Linked DNA regions of Homo sapiens: region 1 is linked to region 2. Evidence: fine-mapped expression QTL. A gene starts in region 2. The other region holds a variant in brackets. All regions are shown on one strand. Distances are between the middles of the regions.

Region 1 (16,766 bases), 42 kb after region 2:
GCCGACCTCAAGTGAGCCACCCGCCTCGGCCTCCCAAAGTGCTGGGATTACAGGTGTGAGCCACTGCGCCCGGCCGAAATTTTTTTTTTTCTAAGAAAGGGTGTTAAAGAAAAAGATTAGTTAAATTGTGAAAGTTGAAGATTCCCTACTGATGTGAATGAGGAAAAAAAGTGCCAACTTTGTAGGCACTGTTCCCATAGGAAATTAATAAGTAAATAGATTTAGGTGGCTAACCCTTTCTGATCTTCTGAAATCCATAAGACAGGTAATTCTGGAAAGTAGAGTGATTACAACAGCAACCTTCTCCACAATTTCCTTAGAATGCCGTCTGAAAATGAACGAATCTTTAGCAGTAACCACAAAGGATATGCCTGATCATATTGCAGTTCGTTCGCTGATGTTCTCTGTCCAATCAACTGACAGGACTACAGTGTCCTGCTCCTCTTTCTGTTTTATTTTCTAGGTGCTGTCCCCTTTGTTCACAGAAAAGCATAGAAAGCTCTGCTGTATTCTCATAAAGCTTGGCCCCAGCCCTGATGAGTTTCTCTATACTCATTCACAGGACAGGCTTTGAGCTCTAGACTTTGGTGGGATACCTCTTACTACCCAGAATACTATGGGGGGAAAGAGGAATTGGGAGTAACATCTTTATCCTGCCTGCCTTTTAGCTGTAGGTCCAGGTGGGTTTTCGCTATACATTTTTTAGTACTAGCACCTCAAGGCTCTCAGGCAGAAATAATTAATATCAGCAAATATTGTTCTATGACCAAAAGAAAGACACACAAAAATTCTTAAAACTAAAACAACTGCAACTCTAAAACCTATGAAAATATTTTATGACTTAAAAAAAAAGAAACATAAACGTCAGTCTGCTGAAACATTAAAGAAAACAAAAAATTTTAGAAAACTCACATTATTCTAAACTAGAAAAGAAAATATTTTGTTAAATAAGAACACCGTATTTAAAATCAAAACCTTAGCCAAAATAATTTCTTTTTGAAGCAATAAAAAGATGTGGTAGGATAGATTACAGAATCAACAACATAGAGGATAAAAAGAGACACATCTAAAGAATTCAGAAGAATTTAACAAAAAGATAAATAAAATGTAAATGAAGATAGCAGACATGGAAGATACATAACAGAGGTCTCTGCTTTGAATAATACGTGCTCCCAAAGCACAAGGCAAAAAAAATGAAAGCAATAACCAAAAGAAAAAATAGAAGAAATTCTTCAGACATTAAATAGCATCAGAGATTGTACTTTAACAAGCATGCCATTTTCCTGGAAAAACTGATGAGGAGATAATTCTTTGATGTGTCTTGGTAAAGATTTTAAACTTCCAGAAAATAGAATCCTGCAAGCTTCCCCAGGATAAAAACAAATAAAACGAAAGGTTACTTTCAAAGGAACTAAAATTATACCAGCCACAAGTAAATGCTGTGGAATATTCACATGCTAGGATGCTATGTAATATTTATGAAGAATGATGATCTAAATCTCAGGGTTCTTAAAGTGTGGTCCAGGGACTCTCGGGTGTGGCCTAAGACCTTTACAGAGTCCTTGAGATCAGATCTATTTTCGTAATAATAAGACATTACTTGCCTTTCTCACAAATGTGTAGTGGAATTTTCCAGAGACTGTAATATGCCTTGTGATATCACAACAGATTGAATGCAGAAGCAATAGGAGAATGAGAATGCAGCTGTCTTCTGTTAAATCAGACAGTAAATAAATTTGCAAAAATATAAAACAATTGCACTCTTCTCCCTAATTTTTAAATTTTTTATATAATTATTTTGCATAAAAACATTATGCTAACATGCAGTGAGTTTATTATTTTAAAATGAACTAATAAAGAAACATTTTTAAAGCTTGCAGTGATTTTTCTTTTTTTATTTTTATTTTTCTGAGATGGTATCTCCCACTGTCACCCAGGCTGGAGTGCAGTGGCACGATCTCGGCTCACTGCAGCCTCCGCCTCCCAGGTTCAAGTAGTTATCCTGCTTCAGCCTCCCAAGTAGCTGGGTCCACAGGCTCGTGGCACACCCAGCCAATGTTTGTATTTTTAGTAGAAACAGGGGGCGGGGGGCACCATGTTGGCCAGGCTGGTCTCAAACTCCTGACCTCAGGTGATCCTCCTGCCTTGGCCTCCCAAAGTGCTGGGATTACAGGTGTGAGCCACCACATCCGGCCTTGTGATTTCTACACCCAGACAAAAGCTTGCAGTTTTAATTTCTAATACAGTAAATATTGATATATATAACCTACATAAACACAAGCTTTTTGGAGTTCTCCATAATTTTTAAGAGTGCAAAGGGGTCCTAAGACCCGTTTGATAACTGCTAGTAGAAATCCGTATAGAAACCATGATATAAAATTGTGTATACATTAGCCAAATTAGAAAATAATGTGAGGCGGGCCGGGCACGGTGGCTCATGCCTGTAATCCCAGCACTTTCAGAGTCCAAGGCAGGTGGATCACCTAAGGTCAGGAATTTGATACCAGCCTGGTCAACATGGTGAAACCTCATCTCCACTAAAAATACAAAAAAGTAGCCGGGGGTGGTGGCATGGGCCTGTAGTACCAACTACTCGAGAGACTGAGGCAGGAAAATCGCTTGAACCCAGGAAGCAGAGGTTGCAGTGAGCCGAGATTGCGCCACTGCACTCCAGCCTGGGTGACAGTGAGACTCCATCTCAAAAAAAAAAAAAAAGAAAAAAAAATATCATGAGGCTATATGCATTAAAAATGGATTTTTCCTTTAAATGGGGGGATGATTTTATAAATCTGTAGTGTATAAAAGGAGAGTTAGACCAGAAATATGACATTTATTTCCTTCAATAAATCAAGTTAGATAGTTTTAATTTATAATGGTATAATAAATACAGTTTAAAGAATGTGAACTATTTTAAGTATGTAATGTCAAATTCATAAAAGGATGCTTAGGATCCAACATACTACAGGATTCAAAGCACATGAGACAATTTATTGTGCAAAAGACAAAATAGGAAGCAAAGAAGCCTAAAATATAGGAGGAAATCATAATAGTGTAAAATGAGTCTGTAAATTTGAGGGTTTACAGATACTTAAAGTATATGGGGGAATATTGAATAATTTTGTTGCCCTATTTGCAGTATTGCCTGAAACCAAGATTATTGGAAGAAATCAGGAAAACTGGCTTTGACAAAAAGAAATAAAATGAACTAGGATTGGCCTTTTCCCAAAGCACTGCTTAAAGAAACATCACTATTTTTAACATGCAGAAAAGAGGTAAAAACAGTAAGAATATGATGGGGTTTTGATTTGCATAGAAAAGGTCATAGTGAATTAGAAGAAAGCTAACATTAGAATTATACACCTGTCTTTTTAAGTAGTCTGCACAATTTTAGGAAAACTTGAATATGACATTTGGAAAGAGTTCCATGTGGAAAAAAATTGTAAAGGTTAGAAAAGAAGCTATCAAGAAAATTGGAAAAAATTGAGATTACTCAGGTTGGAGAAGAAACTCTCAACCTCAGTTCCCTTAGGGCACACAGGGTTCTTATTAGAGCCCATTGGACAGTGGTTGTCATCTACACTTACGATGTCATAAGAAAAAACAATTTTAAATTACAGCCTAAGAATCTGGATTGGATATACAGAGCCATGTCTTTAGATCCTTAGTTCTTTGATACAGGATAAAAGTCCAGCTATGCATCATTGAACAACGAGATATATTCTGAGAAATCATTAGGCGAGTTTGTTGTTATGTGACCATCATGGTTTACTTACACAAACCTAGATGGTATAGCCTATTACACACCTAGGCTATATGGTATGGCCTCTTGTTCCTAGGCTACAAACCTGTGCAGCATGTTACTGTACTGAATACTGTAGGCATTTGTAACACAATGGAAAGTATTTATGTATCTAAACACATCTAACATAGAAAAGGTACAGTAAATATATGATATCGTAATCATATGGGACCACCATCATATATGTGTTGTTGACAGAAATGTTATTATATGGCATATGACTGTACTTGGAATCCCATTGACTCTGTTAGAATAGTAGTGGTACTCTTCCAATTTTGTGAAATCCAAGCCAGAAGAAATCATTACAGCTAGAGAAATTTTTAGTCTATCTGGGAGTAGCTCACATTCTCCCTGCTTAGTTGACCTCAAAATCCTTTTATAATAATATCCAGGTTTCCATGTCCCATTTTGTGTTTGCTTGGTTCCCTTAACCTGGGTAGGCTGATTCACTCTCTCCTTACCAAAGTGATTTTATACACAGGATACTTATGTACAGAAACCATTTATGTACCTCTTACCCTACTCCTTACTCCAGAAGGAGATCTGAAAGCCTGTTTTCAGAGATACTTCCAGAAAACTGCCCAAATACTGCTTTTCAAAGAGAGACCTACCAAAAAAAAATCACTGAACTTTCTATCCAATCAAGAAAACTCATTTGTAGTTCTCTGAAGCAATAATAAGAACCAGGAATGGAGGGTTTGTCTCCGATGGCATCCACCAACACTGTAAGTGCAGTGAAGACTGTGGGACTGTTGCCACCAAGATGGATTTGATGGTTGCTTTTCAGAAGGCAAGATGGTACTGGCAAGAAAGCAAGCGATGTGTCACTGTCTTCTTCCTTCTGACCCTGGGGTAGGGGATGCTGATGTCCCCTACCTCTTACCTCAGAATATGCAGATCAAATTGCATATTTACAACTGGTGAAGAACTGTCAAGGCAAATTTAGGAACGGTGCAAACCCTCATCAAACTTCTATATCTCCTATTGCTGACATTCTGTACTGGAGGATGCCAATGGCATGATTGGATGCTAAGTATACCAGCACCACCACTGCCAGACACTAGATATTGGCACCTGTGAAATGAGATTTAACCTGTCGCTGCTGCTTAGTGTCACTAACTCCAAGCTAAAAACCCTCAACAGAGCACTCAGTTCACTAACTGGGGTCATGGGCCACACTCCAGCTGCCACAGTCAAATTGTCAATTGTCTAATCATCTGTGTCCTTTTCAGCTTCTGTAGTAGAAGGCAGGGCTTCAAAGCTCACACAATAGCAATTCCACAAACTAAGGGAGGAGCTGAGATGCTGGGTAGCCAAAAACTGGCAGAAATCCATCCCATTTGTCCTAGGTAATTTTAATTATACCTTATAGAATGTCAACTTAATTTTTTTCTCATTGAGTTAACTATATTTATGTCTGGGGACTATCTTTTTTTTAAATTTTCTCTCTCTCTCTTTTTCTTTGTTTTTGGAGATGGAGTCTATCTCTTTTGCCCAGGCTGGAGTGCAGTGGTGTGATCTCAGCCCACTGTAATCTCCACCTCCTGGGTTCAAGCGATTCTCCTGCCTCAGCCTCCTGAGTAGCTGGGATTACAGGTGCCCACTACCATGCCCAGTTAATTTTTGTATTTGTAGTAGAGACAGGGTTTCACCATGTTGGCCAGGCTGGTCTCGAACTCCTGACCTCAGGTGATCCACCCGCCTTGGCCTCCCAAAGTGCTGGGATTACAGGCGTGAGCCACCGTGCCCGGTCCTTTTTTTTTTTTAACCATCCACAGCCAATGGGGTGTGCTAGGGATAAGGTAGATACTATATATTACTCTGCTGCTGCTACTTCTATTATTATTATAAAAAACTAAACATCTCACATTTCTATAGAGATCTGTAGTTCATAAAGTACTTCTATAGAGATTTATAGAATATAAAGAGAATCTGTTATTCTCACTTAATACTCAGAATTACTGAGATAAGCATAATTATTGCCATTTGCCAATGAGGAAATTGTGGTCCTGGTGCAGTTCTTCATGGTCACACAAATAGTGGAAACTAGAGCTGGAGCTTGAATCCAAGTTTCCTGGTTACCTCAGTGGTGATCTTTCTATTCTTTCAGTGAGTGTGGTTCTTACTTATTTTATTCAATAATAGATATTTATATCCAGACAGACAGCCTTTCCTACTAGAGAGAGTAATGCTTTTGCTTTAATCTTACATCGCTCTTTGATTTGTTGTTATTGTTGTTGTTGTTTATTTCAGGAAGACGTATTTTAGCAGATGAAGCACTCAAGCTGGGCATTCTAGATAAAGTTGTAAACTCAGACCCGGTTGAAGAAGCAATCAGATTTGCTCAGAGAGTTTCAGGTAAGAAGATAATAATAAAAATAGCCAAAGACTGTAAACAGGATACATGTTCATTTAAATAAGAAACTCCTGGCCGGGCGCAGTGGCTCACGCCTGTAATCCCAGCACTCTGGGAGTCCGAGGTGGGCGGATCACGAGGTCAGGAGATCGAGACCATCCTGGCTAACACGGTGAAACCCCGTGTCTACTAAAAAATACAAAAAATTAGCCGGGCGTGGTGGCGGGCGCCTGTAATCCCAGCTACTCGGGAGGCTGAGGCAGGAGAATGGCGTGAACCCGGGAGGCGGAGCTTGCAGTGAGCCGAGATCGCGCCACTGCACTCCATCCTGGGCGACAGAACGAGACTCCGTCTCGAGAAAAAAAAAAAAAAGAAAATCCTGAGGCTGGGTAATTTATAAAGAAAAAAAGATTTAATTGGCTTACAGTTCCGCAGGTTGTACAAGCATGGTACCAGCATGTGCTCAGCTTCTGGTGAGGTCTCAGAGCTTTTACCCGTGGTTGAACGTGAAGCAGGAATAGGCACGTCATATGGCAAGAGAGCAAGAGAGAAGTGTGGAGGTCCCAAACTCTTTTTTTTTTTTTTTTTTTCTGAGACAGAGTCCCGCTCTGTTGCCCAGGCTGGAGTGCAGTGGCGCGATCTTGGCTCACCACAACCTCTGCCTCCTGGGTTCAAGTGATTCTCTTGCCTCAGCAGCCCAAGTAGCTGGGAATACAGGCGTCCGCCCACCATGCCCCGCTAATTATTGTATTTTTAGTAGAGACGGGGTTTCACTATGTTTGCCAGGCTCATCTCGAACTCCTGACCTCGTGATCTGCCTGCCTCGACCTCCCAAAGTGCTGGGATTACAGGCATGAGCCACCGCGCCTGGCCCCAAACTCTTCTAAACAAGCTGATCTCTCATCAACTAAGTGAAAGCTCTCTTATCACCAAGGGGATGGTACTAAACCGTTCCTGAGGGATCAGCTCCCATGACCCAGTAACCTCCCACCAGGCTCCCACCTCAAACACTGGGGACCACATTTCAACATGAGATTTGGAGCGGACACACATCTAAACCATATCACAGGCTCTATAATTTACCGCAGTAAAACTGTGGGCCTTGAGAACTTCTGTCTCCGCAAACTGAGTTATGTCCTTCTCTCAGTGGTTTCTTACTTTATGGACTCGGGATGTTCCTTTCAGAGTTCTTTCAGTGGCACTCACAGAGGTTTTTTTGTTTGTTTCACAGTTTCTTTTCAGTCTATGGATGTTGTCATCTTTAAATGAGCAAGATGGAGAGGGTAAAAATAGCCAGAAAAAAATAATTGGGAAGAGTATTGCGTTACAGGCAGAACAGAGTGCTGGTCTCCCGCTTGGTGGCAGGCAATGGCCCAGTGTCATTCAAAGGCATTCTTTTGAAGGAGTCATTCTTTTGTTGACCTTGGCAGAGACCAAACACTTTCCTGAAATAATCTTTCTTTTTTGTGGCTCTAGCCAGTTACTGTTTCAATGTGAAAGTAAAAGCTTGAACTGGAGAGGGGAGGAACGATGGGGAGAAAATAATGGAGACCCCTAAAGAGAATCAGCAAGTCCTTGCCCAAATAGAAATAAATTTCCTACTATTTTTCTCGGCCTTTCAGGCAACCTTCACTGTGTTTTCATCATTGTGCTTCCCGAGGGGGCTTATTGTTTTGTTAGAAGTCACTTGACAGACACACAGCAAAGGCTATTTGCATTTGGAGGTCCCGAAATGATTCTTTGGTTTGCTAAAGGTAGACCCGTGTCTGTCATTCACATCTGTAGTTTTAGTTTGTAAAGGTCTCAATTTCAACAGGAAGTTCTTTTCCTTAAGTGATTTCCCTAGATTCTGATTTGAGAATTAAGTTACTTCAAGAAATAGTTGAGGTTCATGATCTAGGAGACCTGGATCCAGGTCTCAACCTTAGCTACATTTCTAAAATGGTCTGGTTATAACTTTAATTTATTCACAATTTAAAATTAATTGTAAACATTAAATTAAGCATTTTTACTTTATAAAACTTACAAAATAGTGTTTCATCTCAACGACATTATACAGTTTGTCCACTTGGTGGCATCCAAATATTGAGGCACCATTTGCTTTAAACCTGTAATTCACCTTTTAACACTTCAGGGCTTTAGACAATTATGTGTTACTATTTTAAATTATAATCATGAAAACTATATAGAAAAATGTAAAATTGTGATATAAAAATGTGTAGAATATAAATGTACATGTATTTGCAATTATACAGTATATAATCGTGTATAGAGTAATGATCATTATCTGGAGTATGTATGAATACAGATACAAATGGAAAGGAAATAAGCAAAAATGAAAATGTTAGTTTTTCTCCAAAATTTCTTAAGTGATTTTTGCTTTTGTTTTGTTTTATTCTCCAGCTTAGGATAAGTTAGTTTTCTCAAACATTTCTAAATTATTTTTGGTTTTGTTTTTATTTTTTCCAGCTGTATTGAGGTGTAATTTCTACAGATAAAATTCATGCATTTTAAGGGGGAGTTTGGTGAATTTTGGTAGTTGTTTACAGTTGTATAACCATGGCCACAATCAAAATATAGTTCTATCACCCTAAAAAGTATTCTCATACCCCTTTCCCATAAATCCTTTTTTCTTCCCCTTGGCCGCAG[G/A]CAACCAGTGACCTACTTTCTGTCATACTTTTATGGTTTTTTTAGAATCTCATATGGATGAAATCATGCAGTAGTATATAGTCTTCTGTGGCTGGCTTTATTTTGTATAATGTTTTTGAGAGCCATTCCTATTGTTGCATGCATTAATATTTTGTTCCTTTTTATTGACTTGTATTCCACATTGTGGGTAAACCACAATTTGTTTATCCATTATCAGTTGATGGACATTTAGTTTGTTTCCACTTTGGGCCTACACAAGTCTTTGTAGACATAGTTTTTCCTTTTTCTTGGGTAAATACCTGAGAATAGTATTGCTGGGTTGTAATAAGTGTATGCTTGACTCTTAAATGCTTTTTAAAATTTATTAATAAAAAAATCAGTGATTTAAAAGACACTAATTTTTGCCAAGCAGATCAGAACAGATGGAACAAATACGGTGAGACTGAGTTTAAATAAGCTCTCATTAGAATGCTTGTAATACATCCTGTCTAGAAGGCAGCTGGACAATCACTTATAGAGGCTTAAAATTACTCATACCTTTTCACTTAGTTTTTCTATTCTTAGGAATTTACCATAGAGAAATAATCACATAAATACACAAAGATTTGTATACAGTAATACTCACTAAAGCTTTTAGATTATCATAAAATATTGGAAACAACTCAAATATTTAGTTCTGGGAAATTAATTATGTAAAAACGATAATCTCAATGAACTGACTCCATTCAGCTATTACAACTTCCATTTTTAAAGAAAGTTGAAGAACTTGGAAAATTGCTTACATATAGTATTAAGAAGAAAACAGCCAGGTAGAAAATTTTACAAGTGTGTGCGTGTGTTCTTATATGTACCTGCATAAGGAAAAAACTATAAGGCGATGTAACAAATTTTCAGTAGTGGTTGTACTTGGGTGGTAGGTAATCTAGACTCTTGATTTGAAAAAAAATTTATCTTTTCCTAATATCTAAGTCATTAAATTTACCCCCTCCCCCAAAAAAATGGATGACTTTGGGAGGCCAGTGTGGAAAGGACGCAGTCTGTTAGAGAAATGGGCTCAGGACTGGAGGTCAGGAGAGACAGAGGTCTCAGCTTTAGCTACGGGACCTTAACAAATCATCTTTGGGGCTTTGTTTTATGTATTGGTAAAAGAAAGGGTTCAACAAAATTAGCTGGTTTCAAATCATGTTCTGAGACCTCACAGGCTACAGTGGTTGGGTGCTTAGTTATTTGTCCTTGCAACAACTCAAGCAAGGTTTTGGGGTGTAATGTGTGTTTTGGGGTTTAATGATTAGAATCCCATGGAAACCCTAGGACTTTTACTGTTTTTTCTTTTTTAAATGAGTTCCACTGTTTGAAATCCTATGATTTCTTGGTGCTGCTTTGTAATAGACAAACGCTGGAGATCAAGGTAGAGAAAAAGACAGATCAACCAAGGATTAACTCAGAATCTTGTCAACATTTGCCATTTATTCTCTTACCAAATTTATAATTTAAGGAGGCCTATTTATTTGCCTTTCATTTTCATTTGAGGTATTGTGCCTATCTTTTCTTTTTGTGCTTCCCCACTTTCCTCTTTTTTCTCTTTCTTTTTTTCTTTTTTTTTTTTTTGAGACGGAGTTTCGCTCTTGTTGCTCAGGCTGGAGTGCAATGACATGACCTCGGCTCACTGCAATCTCCTCTTCTCAGGTTCAATTGATTCTCCTGCTTCAGCCTCTGGAGTAGCTGGGATTACAGGCATGCATCACCACACTCAGCTAATTTTTGTAGTTTTATTAGAGATGGAGTTTCACCATGTTGGCCAGGCTGGTCTTGAACTCCTGACCTCAGGTGATCCACCCGCCTCTACCTCCCAAAGTGCTGGGATTACAGCCGTGAGCCACCGCACCCAGCCTCTTTGTTTTAAATACAGTGGTTAGTGTGTGGTCATTTAGCAGAACAAAATTGATGGATTAACTTGAAGGAAAGTTTCCACAAAAATTCAATATGTTAATTACATTAAATATATATGCATTTATTAGAAATCTATAGTTATGGAAAGCTAGAGCAATTGTCTTGATCTAGAGCCATGGTCCTCAAACTTCACTGTGCATCAAAATTGCTTTTTGGTGGGCTTGTTAAAGCACGGTTAGCAGGGCCCCACTCATTACTTTCTGATTCATTAAATCTGGGGTGGGGCCCAAGAATTTGTATCTCTAACAAACATGCTTAGGTGATGTTGATGCTGTGTTCTGGGGACCACACTTTGAGAACCATTGATATACAGAGAACAAGGGTAAGAAAGGAGATAATTTTTGCTAGTTTTGATTTTTTTTACACCTGACACGCAAACACTACCTATAGTCTTTTTTTTTTTTTTTTTTTTTTTTTTTGAGACAGAGTCTTGCTTCTTCACCCAGGCTGGAGTACAATGGTGCAATCTTGGCTCGCTGCAACCTCCGCCTCCTGGGTTCAAGCAATTCTCCTGCCTCAGCCTCCCAAGTAACTGGGATTACAGGCACAAGGCAGCACACCCGGCTAATTTTTGTGTTTTTAGTAGAGACGGGGTTTCACCATGTTGACCAGTCTGGTCTCGAACTCCTGACCCCAAGTGATCCACCTGCCTCTGCCTCCCAAAGTGCTGGGATTACAGGCGTGAGCTACCGCACCCAGCTGCTATAGTCTTAAAGATATTTTTGTAAATCAGTTATGAAAGGCATGGTTAAAATGCATACACATATGGTTGCACAACCTTGTGAATATTCTGAAAAACACTGAACTATACACTTTAAAGTGGTGACTTTTGTGGTATGCAAAGTCTGTCTCTGTCTTAAAAAAATACATGTTGAATTTTTGTATTCCCTTTTCCCATTTGTAACCATATTCCAATTATTCAGCCTATTCTCACTCCCACTGCTCAAATGTTTGCTTTAAAACAACAACAACAACGAAAGAAGAAGATGAAGAACATTTATTTAGTTTCTACTTCTTATAGGAAAGGAGGGAGAAAAGGGAATTTCCAATGGTCAAGGTTCCAATCAGCACTTTTGGAACCAATTACGAGTGGGAAGGGAGTGTAGAAGGTTAACATACCTAAAACGCAATTTGGGACTTAGCGGCACATTTCTCTACAAACTTAACACTGTATCCTGGTGAGTTGACTGTGGAAGTTCATTAGCTTTATGCATTTTAATGTTCGTATTCTATGAAGCCTCCCAGACTACTGCAGTGCAATGGATTTAGCAGTGCAATGCAGAATTACTTGGCCAAACCAGATTGCATTGGCTAAACTAGGGAGGGGAGCATCCTATAAAATGCTATATATTTGCACATGCATGTGGCTAGCAGCCTGCCTGTTTCTGAACTAAGAACTCCTGTTCTCATGTGCATGTTTCTGGCATGATGCTGAATGTGTGTGCTGTTATTCAAAGACCAAGAGACTAAAGGCTCTCTCTCTCTCTACCTTCCCCAGCTGGAATGGGCACAGGGAATTATCCAGCTGGGAGTGTCAACTCTGGAACCTAATGCTCCGTTTTCCTTTCTGTAATGAACCCTGGTCCTGTTCCTGTGGCTGTGCTGGGCTGTGTTAGCCACTTTTAACAATTCTAATTCTGCCTAAAGACCTTGGTCTATTTGTTCTTTTGGAGTTGTGGCTTTTAAAAAACCTTAGTGGTTTTATTTGTCTTTCTCTTCATTTTATCTTCTTCACTTTGTAATTTATTTTTACCCGCTGTGAACATTTATATGAACATGTTTCAAAAGAGCAGAGTGACCTGCCTTACATAGGAGGCCTACGCACATGTCTAAATTGAGCTTCCTTTTTACCTGCTAGACAAGTTCTGTGGGTCACCTTCTTGAAGCCTGTTAATGTGCAGTTATTCTGTCTGTCCTTTGCAAAGCTTTTATGATGGACACAGCTTTCTGTTTATCAGGGTTAGAGAGAGAGAGAGAGACAGATTCCTTGATGTCTGTGTTCACGATTTCCGTGAACCGCATGTTGAGTCTCTCTTTAGCCTAGGCAGAGAAAATCTTTTCCTGCCATTACAGCAGAAGAAGAAGGGAAAATAATCACCTCCTTTTGTTCCTTCAGAAACGTGACTCACTTATCTTTTTTATCAAAAATGTCATAGAATACCTCATAGAACTAAGAAAAAATGTGAATGGGTCAAGGAAAGAATTCAATTAATAGTATATTTGAATCACTGATTACTTCCTTTCCTCCCCATTTCCCTGGGCAGCCAATGCTGATGCTGACATACTGACACTTGCCTCTCTTATTGTATAGGTACTGCTGAGTGACTTGAAAACTACCAAGTATACAAGAAATACACTTTGAAAACAACTGTACTTATACACCCAAAGGGGAAATTCTGAATATCTTATAACTGAAGTTGTAAGATAACAGCATCCTTAGTTATAGCTGTAGCAAGAAAGAGATAGGAAATTGAGCAGGGAAAAACCATCTATGATTGTGCCCGGATCCAAAATTTTCCAGTGGGTATGCTTAGTTTGGCCCTAGGACTGGTCTAGACAAGTGCCTTGGATAGCTCCCAAAATGCCCATATGCAGTCTGCGAGGTTTTCAGTGTCCCCGGGATAATAGGATTATGCTGATCAGAACTAATTACTGCACACCATTAAGCAGGCTTTCTTTTCATTTCAGTTTTGTTCTCTCCTCTCTTTTTTTCCCATCTTTTCTTTTCAATCTCTGGCCTAAAATGAAATTGCCAGGAACTGCAGCTGTCCTTGATTCAGTGGCGGACAACACTCTCTGCTCTTGGAGCTCCCAGAGGCTATACCTTAAAATCAGCTTCTGAACTTTTCAAGAATAGTCTTACTAGGCCCCACCTTTAAATATTCCCTTTTTTTTTTTTTTTTTGAGACAGAGTCTCACTCTGTCGCCCAGGCTGGAGTGCAGTGGCACAATCTCGGCTCACTGCAACCTCTGCCGCCCAGATTCAAAGCGATTCTCCTTCCTCAGCCTCCCGAGTAGTAGCTGAGACTACAGGCACCCACCACGCCTGGCTAATTTTTGTATTTTTAGTAGAGACGGGGTTTCACTATCTTGGCTGGGCTGGTCCTGAACTGCTGACCTCATGATCCACCTGCCTCGGCCTCCCAAAGTGCTGGGATTACACTGTGCCCGGCAAAGATTCTTAACTGAATCTATGGTGAGGCCTGGGCATGGCTACTCTTAAAAAATTCAGCAGTTAATTTTGAGGTATGATGTGGGCATCTGAACTTCGTAAACTCTTCAAATAAATCTGATGTGTGCTATGATGTTGAGAAGCACCCCCAGGAATGCTGGGAACAGAGGTAGTATCACAAGACAGAGATCCAACTCTAAGATATCCCAGCGCTGTCTATGCCCTGTTACATGGCATAGATTGCACCGGCAGCCCAGCCTGCCTTCCTCCTCCGCTTGTGCCTCCATGCTCTTGTTCTCTCCTTCCTCTCCCCATTGTCCATTCTTGTCTTCCTTTTAGGTCACCGGCACATTAAATCATCTGTAGACCCTGGGGGAGTCCCCATTCTTCTCTGCTGAGTTTGCTTTCCCTTAAATTGAGGATTGGGCTAACTCTTTGGGTAATTGAGCAAGTAATTGGTGGGCCTATTGGATACGGTTCATGTTTTTTCAAAGTAGTAGGGTGAGAGGGACCACATGCCTATAACCACTGTCTTCTCTCCATTCCTGAATCCTATTCTTTAACATCATATGGGAAATCATTAATTCAGAAACTCATTCTTTCCAACACTACTTACTAATCAAGCATTAAGAAAATATTCTTGTCTCTTTGATTTAAAAAGGAGGCTGAGATTATACAATATATCTATATTACCATGTGCACATGATTACATCCAAACCTTACTCACGTTCCCTTGGACACGCCTAACACACCAATGCCAGAGGGGCTCAATGCCAGATGCGCTTATGTTCATATGTCTTTTTATGGTGAAACTGCTCTGGTATAAGCCCTGGTAGGCTTTCTGTCTAAATAACTAAGATGTACATTTTTGATAAAATGGTTTTATTTTTTAAGAGATGCCAGTACATTATAGAAAACAACTTCTGGTATAGCTGAAGTTTTGGTAACTGTAAGTTGTTATGAATTTATTATTTTATGAAAACTTTGGAATCATTCTGTAAAGTTATTTTTTAAAATAGTACCATAAGGATTCTTATTAAAATTTCATATATAATACATATGGAAAATATATTTTTATGCTATTAAATATTTATATCCAGAAGCATGGTGCTTTTCTGTTTTTATTAAGGTCTTATTTTATGTTCTTCAATAAAATGGTATAGTTATCTTCTGAAAGGTCTTGTACCTTTCTTGATAAATTCATTTCTAGATACACTTTAACAGTTTTAATGAGGCGTGATTTGCCTTATAGATTGTGCAGCCATCCCCATAAATCAATTTTAAGACTTGTCCACTCCCACAAAAAGTTTCTTCATGCCCATTAACACTAACTCCTACTCACATCCCCAGCCCTAGGCAACCACTGATCTTTCTGTCTCTATAGATTTGCATTTTTTGGACCTTGGATCTAAATGGCATCATACAATATGTAATGTTTTGCATCTGGCTTCTTTTAGTTAGCATAATGTTTCTGAGGCTCATCTGTATCTGTATTGTAGCATGTATCAACAGTTTGATCCTTTTTATTGCTGAATAATATTCTATTGCATGGCTCTATCAAATTTCTTTAGTCATTCAACAGCTGATGGATGTTTGGATTGTTTCCAGATTTTGCTATTATAAATAATGCTGCCATGAATATTTGTAGACAAGTTTTCTTTATGGCATATGCTTTCATTTCTCTTGTGTAGATTCCTGGGAGTGAAATTGCTGGGTTGAACAATCAGTTTATGTTTATCTTTTTAAGAAACAACTAAACTGTTTTCCAAAGCAATGTGCTGTTTTACACTCTCAGAAGCAACGTATGAGGCTTCTGGTTTCTCTACATCATCACCAACATTCAGTAGTGATGGCTTTTTATTATAGTCATTCTAGTAAGTCTAACTGCATAACAAATGACCCCAAAACTTAGTGGCTTAAAATCAAACATTTATTCCACAATTTCTGTGGGTCCAGAATCCAAGTGTCCTAGGTCCTCTGGCTTTCAGATTTCAAACAAAGCTACAATCAAGGTGTTGTCTGTGGCTGTAGTCATCTCAGGTTGATTAGGGGTCAGGGGGAGAATCTGCTTTCAAACTCACTCAAGCGGTTGTTGGTAGGATTCAGTTCCGTATGGGCTGTTGTACTGAGGGCCTCAGTTCCTCACTGACTGTGGGCTGAAAGCCTCCCTCAGTTCTTTGCCACGTGGGCTTCACCATAGGGTGGCTCACAACAGGGCAGCTGGCTTCCATCAGAGTGACCAATTTGAGAGGGCAAGAAAGTATGAGCAAGACTGAAGCCAGAGTCTTTTTGTAACCTAATCTAGAAATGACAGCCCATTACTTAGAGTCTGTCTACCACATTTGTTGCGGTTTTAATTTGCATTTCCTTAATGACTAATGATGTCGAGCATCTTTTTGTGTGCATATTAGCCATTCACATATGCTCCTTGATGAAATAACTGCTCAAGTTTTTGCCCGTTTAAGAAATTACATTGTTTACCTAATTATTGAGTCATAAGAGTTTGTTACATATTCTGGAAACAAGTTCTTTATTTGATATTTGATGTGCCAATTATATTTTCTATTGCTGTGCTAAAAAATTACCACAAGCTTAGCAGTTTAAATCATCCGAAATTATTTTCTTACAGTTGTGTAGACTAGAAGTATTGTAGAGGTCTCCCTGGGCTAAAATCCAGGTGTCAGCTGGTGCACTCTTTTCTGGAGGCTCTAGGGGAGAAACTGTTTCCTGCTTATTTGGGTTGTTGGCAGAACTCAGTACTTTGCATTGTGGGATCAGAGTCCCCATGTTCTTGCTTGCAAACTTGCGACCTTGTAAACCTTAAAGGTCAATCCCAGCTT
Region 2 (16,766 bases):
TAAAACAAAATATTTAAAAATTAGCAACGTTTTAAACAAAAGGTCATAGGCCTTGCCTAATTCTAAAGAATGATAGGAAAGGAAGCCCATAGGTAGCCAAACATTTAAATTATTTAGTATCAAGGCATAGAAAAAATTATATAATTTCAGATAAAGGCAAAATTATTAAATGAAATGAATTTTAATGTTTTGAATACAGGTCTGTCCCTGTGTCTCACAAAAGCAGTTTATGGCTGGGCGAGGTGGCTCACGCCTATAATCCCAGCACTTTGTGAGGCTGAGGTGGGCAGATCACCTGAGGTCAGGAGTTCGAGACCAGCCTGGCCAACATGGTGAAACCCCATCTGTACTAAAAATGCAAAAATTAGCTGGGCGTGCTGGCAAGCACCTGTAATCTCAGCTACTTGGGAGGCTGAGGCAGGAGAATTGCTTGAACCTGGGAGGCGGAGGTTGCAGTGAGTCGAGATTGAGCCATTGCACTCCAGCCTGGGCAACAGAGCCAGGGAGACTCCGTCTCAAAAAAAAAAAAAAAAAAAAAAGCAGTTTACTTTGCCACTTTTGCTCAGGTCTAAAGACAAGGCTTTGGTTAACTTGGGTTTGGTGTGAGATACTGGCAGGACTCAATGTCTTCTTCAGATGAGATATGTGTACCCAGGAGTCAAAGCCCTGTAACATAGCACAAGGATTAATTAATAACACCTGATAAGGACCCTTTTAAGGGGACAAGAAGGAGTCCTTTAACTGGTTTTCTTCCAGCATATGTAATTATGAGGCTTAAGGTGGTGATACTGGAGTTCATGGTCTGACTAGAAGCTGTAGAAAGATTCTACAGCCTTGCAGTGATTAATTTTTGTAGCCTCAATAAGCCCCGGTAATAAGACTGAGAGACTTAATTTAGGATGTTGATTTTGAGGACATTTGTTTAAGATGTAAACAGGCTCAAAACATTTGATTAAAACAGAATCACAGGTTATTGTAAAATAAGTCATACATTTAACCAAGAGTGATAAGTGATAATTAAAAAACCTCAAAGGCAATACAGAAAGTTAAATGGATGTAAAAACTGTAACCCTTTTAAATATCAGATGGTTTTTTGTTTTTTAAGACGGAGTTTCGCTTTTGTTGCGCAGGCCTGAGTGCAATGGCATGATCTTGGCTTACCGCAACCTCCGCCTCCCAGTGTTACAGGGTGAGTCTTTGTTCTTAGAACTCCCAAGATGGTGGCGGCTGCTCCCAAGATGGTGGCGGCCACTCCCAAGATGGCAGCAAGACTTTTGTTCTCTGACTTGGGGTTCTTTTCCTCATGGATAACAAGGAATAGAACCTTGGGCCATGCGGTGAGTGTTATAGCTCTATTAGAAGCCATGGGTCATGGAAGAGAACCATGGAGCCCAGCAACTAGTGTTCAGCTCATTTAGGACGAACCTGGGCACTTAGCCATGCAGGAACAATGACTTTAGCCTGATCGGGAGCAGCAATGGGCGCCTTGCTGGGTGGATCAGGAGCTCAGCCGACACCCTGCCGGATCCGGAGGGGTGGGAGTCAACAGCGGGTCTGCGACGGCGGCACTCAGCAGTGGTGGATGGCGAGAGAAAGCTCAGCTCGAGCCGGAACAAACACGGACCAGAAGAGTGTGCAGTTGCAAGATTTAATAGAGTGAAAACAGAGCCCCCATACAATGGGAGGGGACCCAAAGGGGGTTGCCCCTACCGGCTCGAATGCTGGGGGTTTATATCCCGATCATTGTCCCTCCCTGTGTGCTCTCAGGCGATACATGATTTGACTATTTCTTTACCTCCTGCTTTTAGCCTAATTTGTATTTTAGTGAGCCCTCTTTACTACCTAATTGGTCAGGTGTGAGCTGAGTTACAAGCCCCGTGTTTAACGGTGAGTGCGGTCGCCTTCCCCAGCTAGGCTTAGGAATTCTTAGTCAGCCTAGGAAATCCAGCTAGTCCTCTCTCACCAGGTTCAAGCGATTCTCCTGCCTCAGCTCCCAAGTAGCTGGGATTACAGGCATGCACCACCATGCCCGGCTACTTTTGTATTTTTAGTAAGAGACAGGGTTTCTCCATGTTGGTCAGGCTGGTCTCGAACTCCCAACCTCAGGTAATCTGCCCGCCTCGGTCTCCCAAAGTGTTGGGATTACAGGCATGAGCCACTGTGCTGGGCCTGTTTTGTTTTTTGTTTGTTTGTTTTAGCAATCAAAAACCTAATAAAGACAGCATAGGAATGATAAAATCTTATTTCTTAAGCCGGTTACCAAAAAGACAAAGAAAAACCTATTGCAGCGTGACTGCTTCTACTTATGGGAAGCCCATTTAGATAACCTGGAAGTCAAACTTGATAAAAGTGCTTGAATTTAATCAGACACAGAAAGAGTGTGTTCAAGGTTATGAGGATAGCAGGGGGAATACATGACTCTAAGGAATAGTATGAAAAGTTTTCTGACGGATGTGGTGGCTCACACCTGTAATCCCAGCACTTTGGGAGGCCAAGGCTGGCGGATCACAAGGTCAGGAGATCGAGACCATCCTGGCTAACATGGTGAAAACCCGTCTCTACTAAAAATACAAAAACTTAGCTGGGCGTGGTGGCGGGCGCCTGTAGTCCCAGCTACTCAGGAGGCTGAGACAGGAGAATGGCATGAACCCAGGAGGCAGAGCTTGCAGTGAGCCAAGATCACGCCACTGCACTCCAGCCTGGGCGACAGAGTGAGACTCTGTCTCAAAAAAAAGAAAAAAGAGAAAGAAAAGAAGAGTTTTCTGATTACATTGAAAATTTTGGCATATCAAGAAAAGCCAAAAGTACAGAATCAGGTTATGCTACAGGAAAACATTGCTTTTCTAGACCTTCAAGATAATACATTTTAGCATCAGGTCATAATAGTTAGAATTAGAGGAAATGAAAGAAAGTTACAGGAGCTGGCAAAAAAGCTGAAGGAAAGATCATCTCAGGCCTTCTCAAGCAGAAAAAAAGCTGAGAGCAGCAAAACTTGGCAAAAGTTGAACTTCTGAGATGTGATTCTGAGTTTTTAAAAGAAATAGGCAGGCTGGGCGCAGTGGCTCACACCTGTAATCCCAGCACTTTGGGAGGTCGAGGCAGGCAGATCACCTGAGGTCGAGAGTTCGAGATCAGCCTGACCAACATGGAGAAACCCCATCTTTAATAAAAATACAAAATGAGCCGGGCGTAGTGGCGTATGCCTGTAATCCCAGCTACTCGGGAGGCTGAGGCAGAAGAATCACTTGAACCTGGGAGGTGGAGGTTGTGGTGAGTCGAGATCGCACCATTGCACTCCAGCCTGGGCAACAAGAGCAAAACTCCATTTCCAAAAAAAAAAAAAAACATAGGCCAGGCACAGTGGCTCACGCCTGTAATCCCACTTCAGCAGTCTGAGGCGGGGGGATCACTTGAGGCCAGGAGTTTAAGACCAGCCTGACCAACATGGTAAAACCTCGTCTCTACTAAAAGTACAAAATTTAGCCAGGCGTGATGGTGCATGCCTGTAATCCCAGTTACTCGGTAGGCTGAGGCAGGAGAATCGCTTGAACCTGGGAGGTGGAGGTTGCAGTGAGCTGAGATCATGCCACTGCACTCCAGCCTGGGCAACAAGAGCGAGACTCCATCTCAAAATAAATAAATAAATAAAATTTTTTTTAATTAAAAATTTTTAATTTTAATTTTAATTACAGGTGTGGTGGCTCACGCCTGTAATCCCAGTACTTTGGGAGGCTGAGGCAGGAGAATTGCTTGAACCTGGGAGGCGGAGGCTGCAGTGAGCCAAGACTGTGCCACTGCACTCCAGCCTGGGCAACACAGCGAGATTCTGTCTCTAAAAAAATAAATAATATAAATAAAGGAAATAGATTATAAAATTGAAAGTAAAATTTTTTCTAATTTCAGTAAGAGCAAATCAATACCTTAGGAAAATCTTGTTTTAATATAGGGGACCAATCTTAAAAGACTATTATAAATAATTCCCTTTAAATTATAGCTAACTATGTGTGGTGCAACGCAGGGTGAACTCGAATGTGTTTCAGGTGACTTAAACCCTCTTTTTTTTTTTTTTTTTTTTGAGACGAATTCTCGTTCTGTCACTCAGGCTGGAGTGCAGTGGCGTGATCTTGGCTCACTGCAAACTCCACCTTCCAGGTTAAAGTGATTCTCCTGCCTCAGCCTCCTGAGTAGTTGGGACTACAAGTGTGTTCCACCACGCCTGGCTAATTTTTGTATTTTTAGTAGAGATGGGGTTTCACCACGTTGGCCAGGCTGGTTTCAAACTCCTGACCTCATGATCCACCCGCCTCGGCTTCCCAAAGTGCTGGGATTACAGGCGTGAGCCACCGCACCTGGCCAACCCTTCTTGTCTTATGCTAAATTTTTCCCTTACCCTATTCAGCTGAGGACAAGAGAAACTCACCCAGCCTCCAGTTCTATCATTACAGTTCATGGCTATCACTCTCGTGGAATGGGAAGCATGGGAAAGCGCAGACTTATCAAATTATAAGGATGCTAAAAGTCGGGGATTATACCCATGAACCAAAGGAAAGCTCAGAGTAGGGCATTGCCTCTGGAAGGAAAACATGCAAAGCAGCACCTGTGCCCACATAAAGTCAGAGATGTCTGACACTCAGATTGGACCCCAAAGGGGGTGCCCCGGGGGATCCTCTGGACCTCAACCTCTCCAAAGGAAACACCCTCGGCAGAGGTTCTGAGGCCTAGTACTAAGCCCTGCTTAGAATTTTCTCTGGCAGTTGCAATACTGTTTGGCCCCAATATTGTTTGGAATCTGGAGTTCGCTGTTGAATGGAAAAGTGGAATGGAGTTGCATGTATCCAGGCTTTTGGGCTGCTGTTTTAAGCAGGGTCAGGACTGGTTAGTATGTGAGGTTCTCTTTGGTGCTGTTCGGCCCCAGTGTTCTTTGGAATCTGGGGAGGTTTGGCCTTTAAATATCAAACTGCCGTGAAAACTGCTTTACCTGAAATTTTGGTTCACAGCATTGTATTACCTATTGGGGCAAACAAAGTAAAACTGGCAAGCCTATATTGCTATCTCATGGCTAGCATTCCAAGCTATCGGATCTTTGTGTGTGTGTGTGTGTGTGTATACATGTCTAGATGTGGTTATTTGTATGTACACTTATTGTTATATGATGTCTACCAAGTTGACATAAGTAAAAGAGCACTCATATATTAAGTAAATAAATCTAAGCAATTTCAAATTCATGTGACTTAAGTATAATTTACTAAACAAGTTTGTTTTAAAATTATTGATAAAATAAAAATAGGTATGCCTTCAGAACTGTCAGCATACATGTTGGTCTGGATTTTATGTTTGTCTTTGCTAGATACTTTGAGATGTCAGTGTTTGGCATAGAAGGTTATAAAACTATAACCCAGCCAAAACAAAATGATCTTGGTTTGAGTGCCTTTTTTTTTTTTTTTTTTTGACAAATGAGAGTAATTTAATATTATTTGCTAAATCTTCTGAGTTACTGGTAAAAATACCAATGTATTTAACTTTGAGGCTCTTACTTAGGTTTAGGTGAGCACCTGATGTTCACTGGCTATTGAAAACATGGTTAACAAGGAAACAACTAACTTTAAATGATAATGTCTAATACCTCAGTTTACAGAAGTAATCTAGATAAACTGTTAAAAAAGTAAAAGAATTAGCCAGGCACAGTGGCTCACACCTGTAATCCCGGCAATTTAGGAGGCCTAGGTGGGCAGATCACTTGAGGTCAGGTGTTTGAGACCAGCCATAGTGAAACCTTGTCTCTACTAAAGATACAAAAATTAGCCAGGCGCGATGGCTAGGCGCGTGTAATGCCAGCTACTCAGGAGGCTGAGGCAGGAGAATTGCTCAAACCTGGGAGGTGGAGGTAGCAGTCAGCCAAGGCCATACAACTGCACTCCAGCCTGGGCAACAGAGTGAGACGCTGTCTCAAAAAAAAAAACAAAAAACAAAAAGGGGAATGAACTGAGTGCAGTGAATGGAATAAATGTTTTAGGGAAACTTTTTATGTAAATTAAAATCTTAAAATTATTTGGGTTGTTCATTGAATATCTGGGTCATTTCCAATTAAGAAAGGTTTGTGATATGGGGAAATATGTATAATTGTATAATTGTTCTTATCTAAAAATGCCCATATCTGATAGTTCAGGATTTCTTGCTTTTTAGGATTTCATTAAAGTTTTAGGTTACTAAGGATAAGAATTCTAGTTAACACATAATTCTGTATACAAAATGTGCCTGAAAAAGTTGTGTTGTTTATGAGAAAAAGAATAATTTTGTCTAATTCAGAAGTTATCTAAAAGACAATCCTAAGCAAAAAGAACAAAGCTGGAGGCATCACGCTACCTGACTTCAAACTATACTACAAGGCTACAGTAACCAAAACAGCATGGTACTGGTACCAAAACAGATATATAGACCAATGGAACAGAACAGAGGCCTCAGAAATAACACCACACATCTGCAACCATCTGATCTTTGACAAACCTGACAAAAACAAGCAACGGGGAAAGGATCTCCTAGTAAGTAAATTATGCTGGGAAAACTGGCTAGCCATATGTAGAAAGCTGAAACTGGATCCCTTCCTTACACGGTATACAAAAATTAACTCAAGATGGATTAAAGACTTAAACGTAAGACCTAACACCATAAAAACCCTAGAAGAAAACTGAGGCAATACCATTAAGGACATAGGCATGGGCAAAGACTTCATGACTAAAACACCAAAAGCAATGGCAACAAAAGCCAAAATAGACAAATGGGATCTAATTAAACTAAAGAGCTTCTGCACAGCAAAAGAAACTATCATCAGAGTGAACAGGCAACCTACAGAATGGGAGAAAATCTTTTCAATCTACCCATCTGACAAAGGGCTAATATCCAGAATCTACAAATAAACAAATTTACAAGAAAAAAACAACCCCATCAAAAAGTGGGCAAAGGATAGGAACAGACACTTCTCAAAAGAAGACATTTATGCAGCCAACAGACATATGAAAAAATGCTCATCATTACTGGTCATCAGAGAAATGCAAATCAAAACCACGATGAGATACCATCTCACACCAGTTAGAATGGTGATCATTAAAAAGTCAGGAAACAACAGATGCTGGAGAGGATATGGAGAAATAGGAATGCTTTTACACTTTTGGTGGGAGTGTAAATTAGGTCAACCATTGTGGAAGACAGTGTGGTGATTCCTCAAGAATCTAGAACTAGATATACCATTTTACCCAGCAATCCTATTACTGTATATACCCAAATGATTATAAATTTTGCTACTATAAAGATACACGCACACGTATGTTTATTGCAGGACTATTCACAATAGCAGAGACTTGGAACCAACCCAAATGTCCATCAATGATAGACTGGATTAAGAAAATGTGGCACATATACACCATGGCATACTATGCAGCCATAAAAAAGGATGAGTTCATGTCCTTTGCAGGGACATGGATGAAGCTGGAAACAATCATTCTCAGCAAACTCTCACAAGGACAGAAAACCAAACACCTCATGTTCGCACTCATAGGTGGGAATTGAACAATGAGAACACTTGGACACAGGGCGGGGAACATCACACCCCAGGGCCTGTCAGGTGGTAGGGGGCTGGGGGAGGGATAGCGTTAGGAGAAATACCTAATGTAAATGATGAGTTGATGGGTGCAGCAAACCAACATGGCACATGTATACCTATGTATCAAACCTGCACGTTGTGCACATGTACCCTAGAACTTAAAGTATAATAATAATAAAAAAGACACATGCACACGTATGTTTATTGCAGCACTATTCACAATAGCAAAGACTTGGAACCAACCCACATGTCCATCAATGATAGACTGGATTAAGAAAATGTGGCACATATACACCATGGAATACTATGCAGCCATAAGAAAGGATGAGTTCATGTCCTTTGCAGGGACATGGATGAAGCTGGAAACCATCATTCTGAGCAAACTATCACAAGTTCTCACTCATAGGTGGGAGTTGATCAACGAGAACACATGGGCACAGGGAGGGGAACGTCACACAACAGGGCCTGTCGGTGGGTGGTGGCCTGGGGGAGGGATAGCATTAGGAGAAATACCTAATGTAAATGACGCGTTGATGGATGCAGCAAACCAACATGGCACATGTATACCTATGTAACAAACCTGCACGTTGTGCACATGTACCCTAGAACTTAAAGTATAATTAAAAAAAAAAAAGAAAAGGTTATTTATGAAACAATGTAGTAAGGAACCAGTAAGTAGGGGAGAGAAATGTGAAAAAAAAAAGTTTAGATAATAAAATATTCCTTAAAACCTGATAGAAAATTGGAGAAATTTGACTAATTAACATTTCATAGTTAGAGCTCTTAGTCTTGCCTAAAGTAAAATAAGAAATATAAGTATATTTTTTAATATACTTAAGCATGAAGCTGGTTAAGTATGGAGCTAAATTTCACATACATGCATGCATTGCTTCACACCGTTTACTGTTTTGCATGGATAGTGCTGGCACTGGAGTACTTATTGGTCATGTGCCTAGAGTGAATTTCTTGATTGTACAGGATGTATGATGATATTGGTGGACTTAAGGATATTGAATGGTGTATCAGGAATAAAATATTCATTATATGGGTGTTTGGGGGCCCTGAGTAACACTGTAGCCTCCAGGGTAGATTGAGTAGGAAAAATTTAGGGTGGGGTTCCTGTTTGTTTTTGCTTCTAATTTTCATTTGTTTGCTGTTTATTCTCCTCCAGGCTTTGCTTGTGGTCGCATAAATAGAAAACCATTTTTTTGTTTGTTGTTTTAGTTTCTAGTGGAAGGCTTTTATTTGGTTCTGTGAATAGTTATTTTATTTTCTATGCATTTCTACCAAGTCATCATTTGTTCCATTTATCTGGAATTCCTAGGCTACCTTTGTTGAGCTCACAGGAATTGGTGGAGCACACTAAGCTTTTTAACCTTAAACTAACTTTTTGGATATTAGGCTTCCTGATACTTTAAGTATATTGAGTATACTTTTGTAAATAGAACTTGAGTCATATTTCTCTCTCTCTGCCTAATTTCTTCAAAATTTGTAAATTGTTTGTGAATATTCTTAATTCATAGCAATGTGTTTGTTTGCATACAGTTGAGCAGGGTCACTAGGGCTGCTCATGGAGAGAGAACTCAAGAAAGCTGACATGCCGGCAAAAGGGTAAGAATTTCTTACCAGTTGGACTTCTGGCCCCTCTTTGTGCAAACTGGTTGAATGAATGGTAAAATATAATGAGAAGGCATGAGAATGTTAATTTTTATAAACATTTAACAAGCTTCCCAAAATCAAATTGCAGCTTCAAAATTGTCTTTTCTGACCTCAAACTTTGAGATGCTACAGCAGGCCCGTGAACCATCCAAAAGAGAGGTAAACAGGATTATTTGATATGTTTAGTTACATGGGAAGCATTGTGAAAATAAAAAATAATGTTTAATCATCTTCAGGTTATATATTAGTGAATGATATTAATATATGTTCCAGAATTGTATGGAATTTCTAAAATTCTAATATGTCTGAGTATATGCTATCAATCATAATTATTGTGTTATTGTAGACCACAGAAATAACCAAATCTCCTTGTCAATAGTGTTTTTAACTATCACTATTTAAAGTCATTTGAACTCCATGGTCTAAGTCAAATCAGCTATGAAAACCCATTAGTTATCAGTGCTATGCACCTAAATTGGAGAAACAACTGGTATTCAAGAGGACATAAGTCCAGTGTTAAGCATGGACTCATGGAAAACCAAGATGGCCACCTTGTTCTTCCTGAGTCCTTAAAGCTTTTGTTATTAAAGTTTCTGCATTCCGTGACTCATCATGGAAAAGATAAAATGATCCAGATTAAATATATACTGGTTTGCTGACTTATAAATTGCTAAAATAGTTTATAACCAATGTTTGGTTTACAATCAAAGCTTCAGGTACATTTGGCTACCTGATGGGCCATTTAAACATTTAAATTGTCATTTTATTTATTTATTTTTTTTTTTTTGAGATGGAGACTCGCCTGTTGCCAGGCTGGAGTGCAGTGGTGCAAGCTCAGCTCACTGCAACCTCCACCTCCCAGGTTCAAGTGATTCTCCTGCCTCAGCCTCCTGAGTAGCTGGGATTACAGGCATGTGCCACCACGCCGGGCTAATTTTTGTATTTTTATTAGAGACAGGGTTTCACCATGTTGATCAGGCTGGTCTCAAACTCCTGACCTTGTGATCTGCCCACAATGGCCTCCCAAAGTGCGGGGATTACAGGTGTGAGCCACTGCACCCAACCATCATCCTTCATTTACATAGGGCATACACCAGGTAACCAATGCAAACCTCTAGAGGGTATTGAAATCCCAGAAAATTCTGTAACTGGTCCCTTGAGCCACTTGCTCAGGCCTGCTCCCACCCTGTGGAGTGTGCTTTCATTTTCAATAAATCTCTGCTTTTGCTACTTCATTCTTTCCTTGCTTTGTTTTGCATTTTCAATTCTTTGGTCAAAACGCCAAGAACCTGGACACCGTCCACCCATAACAGTTTCGCTAGTTGCATGTGATTGTAAGACAAATAAAAATGATGTTGTGGGCTGGGTGCGGTGGCTCACGCCTGTAATCCCAGCACTTTGGGAGGCCGAGGCGGGTGGATCACAGGGTCAGGAGATCAAGACCATCCTGGCTAACACGGTGAAACGCCATCTCTACCAAAAATACAAAGAATTAGCCAGGCGTGGTGGCGGGCGCTTGTAGTCCCAGCTACTCGGGAGGCTGAGGCAGGAGAATGGTGTGAACCCGGGAGGCGGACTTGCAGTGAGCTGAGATCGCGCCACTGCATTCCAGCCTGGTCGACAGAGCCAGACTCCGTCTCAAAAAATAAAAATTAAAAAAAAAAAAAGATGTTGAGGCAGGAGTATAGGGCCTGAAGGCAGGGAACCTAAAGACTTTCTAGAACTAAATCAAATGGAAACACTTCAGCTATGACAGGAAATATTCTCTTCATTTACATAGGGTGTACACTGAGTAAATGACTTCGTAACTTCACTTCGTCCTCTTCATTTACATAGGGCGTACACCCAGTAACCAATGGGAAACCTCTAGAGGGTATTGAAACCCCAGAAAATTCTGTAACAAGGTCCCTTGGGCCTCTTTCTTGGGCCCACTCCCACCGTGTGGAGTGTCTTTTCGTTTTCAATAAATATTCGCTTCTGTTGCTTTGTTTTTCCCTTGCTTTGTGTGTTTCGTCCAATTCTTTGTTCAAAACGCCAAGAACCTGGACAACTTGCAGTCCAGACCCTCCTCTAGTAACAATGTTATATAAGTATTTGGTTGATGTTAGAGTAATCACTGGATGGGTTCTTCCTGCCTGCTGCACAAACAAAATCAATTCAGGAAGACCACAGCATTGCAGTAAGGAAAGAGTTTAATTGATGTGAGGCTGGCCACGCCACATGGGACATGGAGTTATTACTCAAATCAATCTCATCGAAGGCTAGTAGGTTAGGGGTTTTTCAAAGGTGGTTTGGTGGGCAGGGGCTAGGGTATGGAAAATGCTGACTGGTTGGGTTGGAGATGAAATCATAGGGGTTGAAGCTATCCTCTTGTACTGAGTTGCTTGTGGGTGGGGCCACAGGAGCTGTTGACTGGTCCAGGTGGAGCCATCAGTGTCAGGCAAACGTGAAAAAATATCTCAAAAGGCCAAACTTAGGTTCTACAATAGTAATGTTACCTGCAGGAGTAAATGGGGAAGTTGTCTATCTGGTGGCTTCCGGAATAATGGCTGGCAATGGTCTATGTTTACACCTTAGCAGAGAGAATTCACACTCCTCTGTCCTCCTAGCCTGGTGGTCTCTCGGTTAGCTTTACAAAGGCAGTTGAGTTTTGGGGAAGGGCTATTATCATTTAAACTATAAACCAAATGTCTCCCAAAGTTAACTTGGCCTAAGCTCAGGAATAATTAAGGGCAGCTAAAGGCAAGATGGGGTTGGTTAAATCAGATCTCTTTGACTGCCATAATTTTCTCACTGTTAGAATTTTTGCAAAGGCTGTTTCATTAGTACCCTACTCATTTAGGTGAAATGAACAATGTGTATTTTATGTGTTCCAGATGTGTATCAATATCACATAACTGTCAGGGAGGGCCCCAGGTATCTGTCCCTGTTCAGAAAGATCATGAAGATGAATACCGCGATGAGGACAGCTTGCCCGTCTCAGCGAACTCAGAACTTGTCCTCAGTAGCCAGCCCCTATGGGCCAAGGGGTTACAAACTTCGACTTGCCGGCAATTACAGCTGTTTTCCATCATTCTCCTTGCTGTACCTTCTGGTGGGAGCAGCATGGGAGTTAATAAAGGGAAAGCGACAAGCGTCTGTAGAGCGCCGGGTGGGGTCTCGGGAGAGGAGGGCTGGGTGGGAAGAGGCGCGGCGGGAGGCGGCGCCCCGGCTCGCATTGGCCCAGCCGGCGTCCCTCCTCTGGAGGAGGCCGGGCGCGCCCGGAAAAGTGGTTTGCCTGACGGCGAGAGGCAGAGGTGCCCTCGGTGATAGAGGAAACATGGCCGAGTATACGCGGCTGCACAACGCCTTGGCGCTAATCCGCCTCCGAAACCCGCCGGTCAACGCGATCAGGTAACGGGCTCGGTCGCCTCCAGCCCGGGGACCGTGCGGGCCTTAGCCGCCCTCTGGCTCCGGAGGCTTTGACTCTCCCCCGTCGGTTTAAACCGAGAAGGACACTCAAGAGTTGAGCAACTGGTACATGCCAGGAACTTTTTTTTTCTTTTCTTTCTTTCTTTTTCTTTTCTTTTTTTTTTTTTTTAACCTAGATTAGCTTGGTTAATCTTCGCAGGGAACTCTCGTCCCCGTTTTACTGATAAGGAAACTGAGGCTGAGGCTGAGACAGATCAACACTTAGGGAGTTGGCCTCGACCTGTCCTTCATGCGGAGCCCTCCTGCTTACTTGCAACTTTGGCTTTGCAGGCCGACTTTTTATTTTTCTTTTTTTTTTTTAATTATACTTTAAGTTTTAGGGTACATGTGCACAACGTGCAGGTTAGTTACATATGTATACATGTGCCATGTTGGTGTGCTGCACCCATTAACTCGTCATTTAATATTAGGTATATCTCCTAATGCTATCCCTCCCCCCTCCCCCCACCCCACAACAGGTCCCAGTGTGCAGGCCGACTTTCTAATCCAAAGGTCTTAACTTAGTTTGATGTTGGACTTTGATCCAGCCTCACTCCCCTTCTTTGAGTCCAGGCTGTCCTTACAATGTTTGGCTAAAGGCTTTAGGAATAGGGCAATCACTGGCATTAGTGGGACTTTTTTTTTTTTTTTTTTTAATGTTAAAAGTCCCACTAATGCCAGCTCAGTGATTAAAGCAGAATTTTGCCCTGGCCCGGAAACGCAAAATTATTTCTCCTGATTTGTTTAAACCTCAGGACTTTGGTGCTTCCAAGGAAGACTCACATCAGACTAAGCCTATGCAATAGCATTTTCTGAAAAATTGCACCTTATCTTCTTTTTCTCACTGGGGAGTATTTGCCTTGTGTGGTGCACTTTAAACATTAAAAAGTGAGATCAATGTTGCCTTTTTGAAAAGTAATGATTATTTGGTTTGGTCCTTCTACATCTCTTAAAAAAATAATTATATGTCAGCCTTGAAAAAGAATTACCTATCCACAGGGAATAAGATTAGTGGAAATTATAATTTATCAAGAATATATAAAGCATAGAGAGAAAGGTCTTTGGTCAAAATTCTTATAACATGCTGCTGAAGCAAAGAGACTGAAATGAGAAGACCTGCTAATTTTAATAGAATTTAAAAATCCTACTGTCATTGGATTTGATTTATCATTAGTATTAATATTAATTCATTATGAATTATTGCATTTAATAATGTCAAAAAATGCAGGACTAAAATCACATAAGGATGACATGTCTACTAACTTGCCATTCCCAGAATAAAAAGCAAAATATCTGTTATATTGGTTTTGACAAAGAAAAATGTAAGTAATATGATTACATGTCAATTTTGGACTGGTCTATATACTGATTAGAATTGCTAGATATTAGGACCTTAGGGGGAAAAGTTCCATACTCTAATACCCATGACTAGGAATATTTTCTGACAACTGTTTTTTTTTTTTCTTTTTTTTTTAAGCTCATTTGCTTGTTTTGAGACGGAGTCTTGCTCTGTCGCCAGGCTGGAGTGCAGTGGCGTGATCTCAGCTCACTGCAACCTCTGCCTCCCGGGTTCAAGTGATTCCCCTGCCTCAGCCTCCCGAGTAGCTGGGACTACAGGTGCGTGCCACCACGCCCAGCTAATTTTTTGTATTTTAGTAGAGACGGGGTTTCACCATGTTGGCCAGGATGGTCTCAATCTCCTGACCTCGTGATCCACCTGCCTCGGCCTCCCAAAGTGCTGGGATTACAGGCATGAGCCACGTGCCCAGCCTCTGACAATTGCTTTTAATATTTCTGGAATTTAACCTGCTCTCCTTGCCCACCCATGCAACCACCTGTGCCACCCCCATCCTCTTTGCAGGAGAAATGTTAGGGCCTACCTCATAAAGTTGTGAAGTTTAAATCAGCTGGAAATTATGAAGTGGCATTTAATAGATGTTAGTTATTCCTATTAGTCAGAAGACCTGTTCAAGCCCCAAAAACAGGCCCTGCTACTCAGGACCCACTTCAGTTTCATCAAGAAGATATTCTCCACTTGGGAATAAGTACTTCTCTGCCCTTTTTTGTCTGTCTTCTGAACTTTTTTAGGTAGAAATGGACATCCTAGGAGTTCCTCAAGTTTAACAGATTCCTCAATTTTTTTCTTACACTTTTTCTTTCCTCCCTTTCTTCCTTTTCCCCTTCCTATTTCTAATTTTATATGGGAAGTCGTCTCCTCCTAGCTGATTGAGAGATTCTTACTTGAGTGTAATACACACACACACACACACACACACACACACATATAAATTTTTTCCCCAAAACAAATAGTTTAAATCCTTCATTGCTAGTTTAGCCAGCCATGTTTGCTTCCATTCAGATAAACACCAGCCCTCTTTATAAGTATAGGACATGCCTGATTAATAGGCCTGTCTCCCAGAACAATGGCTTTCACACGATTGCTTTACTGTAATCCACAGAGTAAGAAAGCTCACGTTTTTACGTAGCAATTCAAGACACACTTACATACAAACACGTAACCGAAAGCAGTTTCCTAAAACAAAACCTATCCTTACTTGGTATATTGTTTGATATAGTCTATTTTCTCATCTCTTCTTTTTCTTTGAAAAAATCCTGGTCACAAGCCACAAACTTGATTTGATGACTTTTGGTTTAAAAAAAAAAACTGTCTAAAAAAAAAAGGAAAGACCTTCTATAGTCAAAGAAGCTGAAGAGTTTTGGTCAGTAGTCATGAAATGCTGTCTCTACTCCAGACTCTATTTCTTCATGCCTGACAGTATTAACAGGAGAAAATAATTTCATAACTTCTGCGGCCTTTACATTGCTATGACTCTCTCTGTCAGCTTGAATCTAGTAAAGTGCGTATCTGTTATAGCTATTTTCATTTTTTTCCTGTTTTTGATATTTGCAAAATTATGAACATAAAAAAGGAAGATAGGTTGAAATGGGAAAAGCTGGTTTCTTCTCCTCAGTGGCACTGATTGAGCTAATTTTGGCTAGTTTTGTAAGCATTGTTTATTCAGAAGGAAATGTGTGCCTTTTGGACTTTTTGATGTTATATAATGGTTCTGAATTTGCTTTTCATGGTCAGATTTGGCTTCTAATTAACCAGCTGAAGCCAAGAGGTTTTGTCTGATTTCATCTAGGTTAAGAGGTGAAAAGTAATTAGGTGTAAGGGAATCATTATAAATAAGGGCAAGTATCCTTTTTATTTCTTGGGGTTTTAACTAATAGTTGTTGGTCTTAACAATATGGCCTTTACAGAAGTTTGTTGTTGTTTGTTTTGTTTTAAAATTTATTTTTAACCCTGTGTACTAAAGAACAGAGATTTTACTCAGAATACTTGGAATTCCAAGGCAAAACTGATTGGAATCTGGTTCTGTGGTTTTTCCTTTTAAGCAGTTCCTCACCACTTGCCCTAGATTCTCTTATTGCTTGGTACTTATTAATCCCCTCCTTCTTCACAAATTTTCTCTCTTGGTCTTTGTGACTTTGAGCTCACTTGCTGAATCACTCTGCTGAGCTTGTCCCACTTCTTAAATGAAGATATATCCAGAGGATCTGCCCTCAGCTCTCTTTTCCTTTGGTAGACTCATTCAGTCTTGGTTTTAGCTATCTCTTCTGCAGATGACTTCCTCATATATTAAAACTTGGCAAAATCTGCTACATGCCCTATCTTTCCACTATCTTGCCTTTATATCTTATCTTAGTTAAGATTACGCTTGGCTGTCACTGACAGAATAGTGAAGATAATAGTGAATTAGACAATAAAAAGCTAATTTCTCTCACAGCAGTGCCCTGGAATGATACAGCTGCTCCACAATCAACAGGGGCCTCAATTATTTTCTCTGTCTATCTCTTGCTCTACCATCCTCAATACATAGCTTCTACCTCCTGATCCAAGGTGGCTGCTCCTGATCTAACCATCACTGGTGCCAGGAATAGGGAGGAAAGAAAAAGGGAAAAGCATACCCAAATCTTTAAGAACTCTTCCCCAAAGTTGCATATACCAAATATGCTTCCATCCCATTGGCTAGAACTTAGTTCCTTGTGCAGACCT

The links.
Region 1: its variant is fine-mapped to the expression of EHHADH in whole blood (TOPMed, PIP above 0.99).

Annotation. Positions count from the first base shown.
Region 1 is chr3:185,207,527-185,224,292 of GRCh38, reverse strand. EHHADH (enoyl-CoA hydratase and 3-hydroxyacyl CoA dehydrogenase) reads left to right here. Exons shown (of 7, transcript NM_001966.4): 5 at 6,053-6,157. Among named protein-coding and RNA genes, the nearest start is that of MIR5588, 37 kb to the left of the region's middle. RefSeq lists an enhancer at 15,894-15,943. The variant G/A (reference allele first, on the strand shown) is at 8,805.
Region 2 is chr3:185,249,832-185,266,597 of GRCh38, reverse strand. EHHADH (enoyl-CoA hydratase and 3-hydroxyacyl CoA dehydrogenase) reads left to right here and starts at 12,549. Exons shown (of 7, transcript NM_001966.4): 1 at 12,549-12,649. The coding sequence starts at 12,576. MIR5588 (microRNA 5588) reads left to right here and starts at 13,326; the gene lies at 13,326-13,388.